Linked DNA regions of Homo sapiens. The protein of the gene in region 1 interacts with the protein of each later gene in a pairwise test. Each region holds a gene or a part of one and is shown on either strand. Other genes may lie near its edges.

Region 1 (3,755 bases):
ACAACCACAAGACTCTTTCTTAAACACTCAACAGTTTATTAAAAACCACAATCAAGCATTTCCGCTTTAATAAATTGTTATATAAACATTCTGATGTTGTGGTTTACCCTGGCCTAATGAGGCATTCTGATTCATTTCTAGTGTAACAGAGTAAGATAGAAAACTGAGTCATTAACACAGCATTCCCTTGTGAAAAAAGACAAACCAGGATGATTAAAGCAATGTTGAAAGGGCTGAAAACCCTGAAATTGGACATATTTTTTTGCCCTTTTATCTGTCTGCAAAGTCCATGTAATTCATTACATGTGTTAGTTCATTTTAAAAATACTCCATGGTATTTTTTCTCTTTTAAAAAATGCCAATGGTTGAAACCAAGGAAACATATATTAAACCATTTCATACAGAGTATAATTGAAAGGAAAAAAAAAGAGAAAATATTTCAAATTTCCAAGACAGAGGATATGCTTAAAATATTCATAAGCTTTTAAAAACTAAACTAGATCCTCTTACTCTGATGAAAGCTAAAGTGAGGACTAGACTTCAATCCTATAGGACTATATCAGATATCAAAAATTTTAATGGAAAGAACACAGACTTGGTGTCAGAGTAACAGTTTTGGCGAAACCACTCAGATATTTACTTTGCTAGATGCTGAAAGATGAGCAAAAACACTTCCAAACATTAAATAGCTGAGGGTTTCGCAGCAAAGACTAAAACGTAAATAAATAATGCAAGAACTGCTCTAATGGCACACGAACAAGGTTAACTAGTAGGGCAGAGTTAAGGAAGACTTCACTGAAGAGGAGACACTTGAATTAGCACAAAAGAAGAATAAATACAGCACTGAATGGGGTTGTTTTGAGGCTTCAATGATGATATACATAAAAGCCCCTGGAACAGCTGGCAATAAACATTAATTAAATCATACTCCTTGTTCAGATTCAATTTCCCCAACTCACCGAGCGTATGAATAGTCTAAGCTGGCCTGATCAATCCGGTTCCTGAGAATTCCAATGTCAGCTGACACCATGTCATCTAAAGCCTGCAACTCCTTCTGGATCCGCTTTAGTTTCATGGTCTCTGCCTGAGTTCTTTTGGATCTAGAAAATCAGGTATGTGAGTGGGAAAATAAGAACATTTTAAAACCATGTGTCCATATACAATGTAAGTGAAAAAGCAAGATACTGCATATACATTTATAATTTATATTTTAAAAGTTAGAAAAAAATCAGAAAAATTGAAATAAAGTAAAAGCTGGTTAACATTTGAGTTTTTGAAATTTTATATTTGCATGTTTCATAAAGTAACAAATAAGTCTAAAAAAACTCAGCAAATAGTTCATTTTAGATTGATATTCATTCTGTAAAGAGAACAAACACTAAAAGAATATATCTGTGTTCCCTTTACATTGAAACATTCAACAGAGCTTTCCAAATTTCTAGTCTTTAATTCTTCCTCTTGCTAAGCCCATTTTCATTTGTCTGATACTTACCTGACATTAAGAACAGATAGATGTCTATACTAAACCACACCTCTTTATATATCTGAGAACATCCACTTAGTTTTAACTTTCTTGGGACCCATTTCCCCAAACTTTTATTGCTTTGATTCTTGTTCTCTAGGAAAACTACTAGTTACGAAAATTCTTTATGGAGCTGAACATCAAAACACTCATTTTCCTTATTTAAAAGCACATCCAACCTCATAATTTCTCAATCCCCTCTCCCAAGTACAATATATACTTAAGAAAGGGAACAAACAAATAAAAAAGCAACCCTTTAATCATGATTTCACTCATTTCAAATTTTCACACACATTGTGAAGGAAGAAGAAAAATCCCCACATAAATCCACCATGTTACATAGCACATTCTCTTGATTTCTACTCTTAGGCATTTACCCTTCCTTTCTGCCTACAAAACTTCACTTAACAGTATGATTCTTTTACGTCAAGTACTTCATTGTCCATTTATTAATAGTTCAAACGTTGTATTTCCTTACACTTCTGTTTATACTGGTGCTGTCTAAAATCAAAAGCACTTATGAGAAGAACTGCTGAGCCTGTACATCTTTTTGTAAAACCACAGAAAACAGCCTTCCCATCTCTTAGAAATTGAAGACTACTAAAATGCTTTAATTATTTTTAAATAATCACTTACCAAAAAAAAAAAAAAAGAGGGCACTACTCTTTTATCTGCTGGTTTTTTCCTTTGAAACATAGTAACTCAGTGAGTTGCATTATTTCCTATGCTTCAAGAAAGATCAAGGTGTACCAGTAGTAGAAAAAGAAAAATCACCATTTCTCAACTACACTCACTCCTCTGGCAGACAAAATTCTGAACTACTCTTATACCCATCACCTTCTTCCCTCTTCTCCTGCCCCTACACATACTCTAGCTTCAAGCAGTAACAGTTTGACAGACTTTTCTGGAAGTCTAAAAAGAAAATGTACTTCCTTGCATTTAGTTTTCACTATTCACAACCATGGATATATTGACTAAGTTTAGTTTCCTAAGGCCACAGGAGATTAGACAGAAACTACAAACTCAGCAAGAGTGGTGGGGGATGGGAAGAATGATTCCAATGGGAATGTTGTTGTGTGCGGCTGGTACAATGCAGTAAATGTGAAGGGGCTGCTGATAGACACTGGAAGGTGAAAGAAAAATTGAATCTCACACAGTGCTCATAATAATGACCCTGAGTCATCAATAAAAAGTTAAACTATATCATGTATCTTCTACTTGTGGAGGCGGGGCAAATTATTTAAGAAAAATGCCCATAGGAAATCCAATTAAGATTCATGGGAGTATGTCACTTATGTAGAAAACCTTATTCCTCTACACATCAAATGATTAAGGCCTCCCCACATAAAAATTAAAACTTGCATTTGTTGCTAATTTACATATACTGATAGCTATTTACTGCTTCCCTTATGAATGTGTAGATGGTTAAAACTGGGAGCACTAATGAAGGTCTTTAAAACTGCAACTATATTTACAAATTTAATATGCTCTATGCTTAAAAAGTTCTCTTTAATAAATTATAACTAGTATTTCAGTATCACTTATAAAGCATAATTTGTTTAGTTAGTCTTAAAAGTAATGGTTGAAGAAAAAATATCAGTTTATTAAAAGAGACATGGGAAAACAAATATAACACATGACACAACTGGTTACAGGTTACAAACAGCCTCTCCTGGTTCAGGTGCCTCACCTTTCTGCAATAGCTTTAGCCAAAAGAGCTTTTTTACGTTTATTTTTCTCTTCCATTAGCCGTTGTTCTTGTTGGAGGACTTCCCAACGAGATTTTTCTTGCCTAGGGGGCAAAAAAAGCATAAAAATGAGTTTATGAAAGAAAAAGAAACTGCTACCCTATCCAACACCTTACCAGTCTCAGTCCTCTAAGTATAAAATTTAATCAAGAAGATTTATGTATATGTTCTTTCAAAAGTCCTCTTAAAAGAAACCCATCTGCAGTTCATTATTTTGCTCTAATGGGAACAAAGACTACGATCTAAAGTAAAGAGGCTTACATAAATTGGACCTCTGAAATCCATTATATATATAATCTAGGAATCCACAAACTGGAAGCCAGAATACTGTGGCATGTGTTTAGGAGTACAAAGAAATTTGTGTAAGTTAATTATGTATTATATGCAGAATGGAGATTAATAAAAATTGGTTTGTAGCTGATGTCATATTATTTATACCTTTTAGAGTTTTCTATAAAGTCTCCACCACCTTAACATGTTTCAGA
Region 2 (3,755 bases), on another chromosome or scaffold:
ATATGACAAAGCTCTTTCTCTACAAAATCAAAAAATTAGCCAGGCATGGTAGTATGGGCCTGTAGCCCCACCTACTCAGGAGGCTGAGGTGGAAGTATCACCTGAGCCCATGAGGTCAAAGCTGCAGTGAACTGTGATTTTGCCACTGCACTCTACCCTGGGTGACAGAGTAAGACCCTGTCTCAGAAAAATAAATATCCCAGATCTTTTCACGTGCAAGTTTGTGAACAACAGAATGAAGGTTAAAGTAAAAGTATTTGTTACTAGATACAGGACTAGATGAGTCCTTATTCTTTGATATTATGGAACGATAGTTTTCCAATTCAAGAGAAAAATTGTCATTTTAAAACTGGGAAATATATCTCAGATTATTTGTTCCAACTTTGTTTCGTTTTGTTTTGAGATGGAGTTTCACTCTGTCACCCAGGCTGGAGTGCAGTGGTACAACTACGGCTCCCTGCAGCCTTGACCTCACGGGCTCAAGCCATCCTCCTACCTCAGCCTCCCTAGTGGCTGGGACTGCAGGCACATGTCACCACATCCTGCTGACTTCTTAATTTTTGGTAGAGACAGAGTCTCACTATGTTGCCAGGGTTGGTCTCAAACTCCTGGGCTCAAGTAAGCCACCATGCCTTACCTGTCCCAACTGTTTTATGTTAACATTTGCAGGCACATTAAGTGTAAAGAAGTGATTTTTGTCTCAAAATCATGTGGCTAAATTACATTTACCCCTAGAAGGCCAATATAATTGAGCCAAATCAGTTCTTTTTCCACAAGGTCATTCTATTTCTCAGGTTAGTGCAGTTTTTAAAAACCGTATTGTGGAAAGTTTCAGACATACACAGGGGTAAAGAGAAGTATATCAAATCTTCATGTATCAGTCACTTCAACAATTACCAATTTATACTTTGTTCCCACTTCTAACCCCCAGTTTACAAGTTTGAAGCAAATCCCAGGAGCAAATCATTTCACCTAGAAACATTTCAAAATATATCTCTAAAAAATAAGATAATCGTAATACTAGCTAATGCGGTTTGAGCATTTTCATTGTTGCTCTCATTGTAGGAGAGAGGAAGGAATTGTATAATGGTACAATTTAGAGAACCTAGTTCAGTTATGCACAGTGATTTTTAAGGCTTAAACTTAATTTGTTTTTTACAGATATGTTATTGGCACTTTGGAGCTATTAGTAGCAGAAAACTACATGATAGTTTATTTAAATGGTGCAACAACTCGAAGAAAAATGCCCAGTCTGGGATGGCTCAGGAAATGTTATCAGCAAATTGATAGAAGGTAATACAAATACAAGTTGAAAGCTAGTCTGAAAAAATTTTATAATGGCTTTAGGAAATCAAACTTTGTTTTTCGTTGCTATTTTTTTTTTTTAACTTTTTTTTTTTTTGAGACGGAGTTTCACTCTTGTTGCCCAGGCTGGAGTGCAATGGCACAATCTCGGTTCACCGCAACCTCCACCTCCCAGGTTCAAGCGATTCTCCTGCCTCAGCCTCCCAAGTAGCTGGGATTACAGGCATGCGCCACCACGCCCAGCTAATGTTGTATTTTTTGTAGAGACGGGGTTTCTCCATGTTGGTCAGGCTGGTCTCGAACTCCTGACCTTAGGTGATCCACCCGCCTCGGCCTCCTGAAGTGCTGGGATTACAGGCGTGAGCCACCGCGCCCAGCCTTCTGTTGCTATTTTAAAACACCATTTATTTTTTAAATTTTATTTATTTATTTCATGGCAGGTTTCTGTTTTCTAAAGATAGCATTTTAGAATATTGTGAGGGAAATCAATTTTGATTTTTCTATAAAGAATAACCTTAATTCTTCAAACTTACAAAGTAGCTTTATATTTCTCCTTATTTAATTGAAGACTTTCTCCTTATTTATAAGATGCAATTTTCTCCACATTGAACACTTTTTTTCCTATTATTTACGTCTTGGCAAAGGATGGAGAATGTAGTATGTTTCCTATTTCATTACATTGAGTTTTGCCTAATTTATAGTGCTTAGCATGTTTTATGTTTTTGTTTTTGTTTTGTTTTGAGACAGGGTCTCACTCTGTCATCTAGGCTGGAGTGCAGTGGTGCAATCTCTGCTCACTGTAGCGGCAACCTCCCAAGCTCAGGTTATTCTGCCACCTCAGCCTCCCAGGTAGCTGGGACTACAGGCATGTGCCACCACACCCAGCTAATTTTTGTATTTTTTGTAGAGACAGCGTTTTGACATGTTGCCCAGGCTGGTTCTTGAACTCCTGGACTAAAGCGATCCACCTGCCTCAGCCTCCCAAAGTGCTAGGATTACAGGCATGAGCCACAGCGCTCAGTATTTATGTTTTTTAATGGTGCTTATTTAGTTGTAATCTTTCTTTGGAACAAGCTTTAGAAGTGTTTTGTCTTGGGAGTTAGTCATCAGTACTTAATGGAAGGAATGTGATCTTCCGATTGGTTTGATCTTGCTGTGGCTAATTTAAATCAAGTCAGACCCATTAATAGGTTTCTCTTCACATCTAAATTTGACATTGGCTAGCTCTTATGATTATATATGTATCTCACTTTATGTGTGAAATATGCATAATACAAAGAGTATTTAGTCATTTAAAAAGGAGAAGTCTAGGATAAAACCTTTAATTTTTAATCAAAACTTTAAATTCCTTAAGAATAGGAGTTAGATCTGATTTGTTTTTGTTCCTGTGGTCATCTTCTCCACTCACACTTCTCTGCCTGCACAGTGCTTTTCATGGTTTTGAAGAACTTAGCACCAATTTCTCCCTAGTCTTGGAAAATGAGAATAGTTTACTTTTACATTCAGTATTGGCCTCTTTCCCTGTTTACAGAGTCCTGAAGACAAGTGAATGTGTATGCTAGGAGACATTTAGTAACAGGCTATACTGTGGACGTAAATCTGGCCAAATGAAGTAAAGTTCATTTCATAGCAGTAGGAGGGACCATAAGAATTTAAGAGTGCATTTTCTTGTCTACAGGGGTATCACACCTAATTGAGAACTTTTGGGTGAGATTTTTCAACTATTATTTTGTATAAACTTGCAGCATTAGAATTTATAGAAATTTTTAATTTTCTTTGTGTGTGTGTGTTTTTTTTTTAAACTCCAGGTTACGGAAAAATCTAAAATCCCTAATCATTGTACATCCTTCTTGGTTTATCAGAACACTTCTGGCTGTTACAAGACCATTTATTAGGTAATTTTTGAGAGCCATTGACTTTAATTTTATTTTTTTTATTTATTTATTTTTAGTTAACACATAATAACTATACATACTTATGGGATACAGAGCTATATTTTGATATGTGTATACATTGTATAATGATCAAACCTGGGTGATTAGTACATCCATCACCTCAGACATTTATCATCTTTTTGTGTTTTGAACATTCAAAATGACATGATTTTTGTATCTTGTAAACATTGTATCCATTGTATTTGTCAGAAATATGGAAGTAATTATTTTTATTTTCTTCCATAGCTCGAAATTCAGCCAAAAAATTAGATACGTGTTTAATTTGGCAGAACTAGCAGAACTTGTCCCCATGGAATACGTTGGCATACCAGAATGCATAAAACAGTATGTTTTGTTTTATTTCCTTAATTGTATTGGATCTTAACATTTTGATGTGCAATGGATAATACTTTTCAATACTCATTCTTTATGTATTATATTTTATAACTGTGCGCGCGCGCGCGTGTGTGTGTGTGTGTAACAAAGAAAAAGAGGAAGAAGCCATTTTCCCACACC

The links. The genes of interacting proteins can lie anywhere in the genome.
Region 2: the proteins of GORAB (region 1) and BNIP2 interact in binary tests that used the Homo sapiens proteins (3 or more experiments, as listed by UniProt).

The regions. Positions count from the first base shown.
Region 1 is NC_000001.11:170,542,050-170,545,804, reverse strand, and holds part of GORAB (RAB6-interacting golgin), read right to left. Parts: intron 3,315-3,755; coding exon 3,213-3,314; intron 1,101-3,212; coding exon 960-1,100; coding exon of another isoform or gene 956-959; exon of another isoform or gene 14-955; intron 1-13.
Region 2 is NC_000015.10:59,668,721-59,672,475, reverse strand, and holds part of BNIP2 (BCL2/adenovirus E1B 19 kDa protein-interacting protein 2), read left to right. Parts: intron 1-1,161; coding exon 1,162-1,293; intron 1,294-3,113; coding exon 3,114-3,200; intron 3,201-3,485; coding exon 3,486-3,584; intron 3,585-3,755.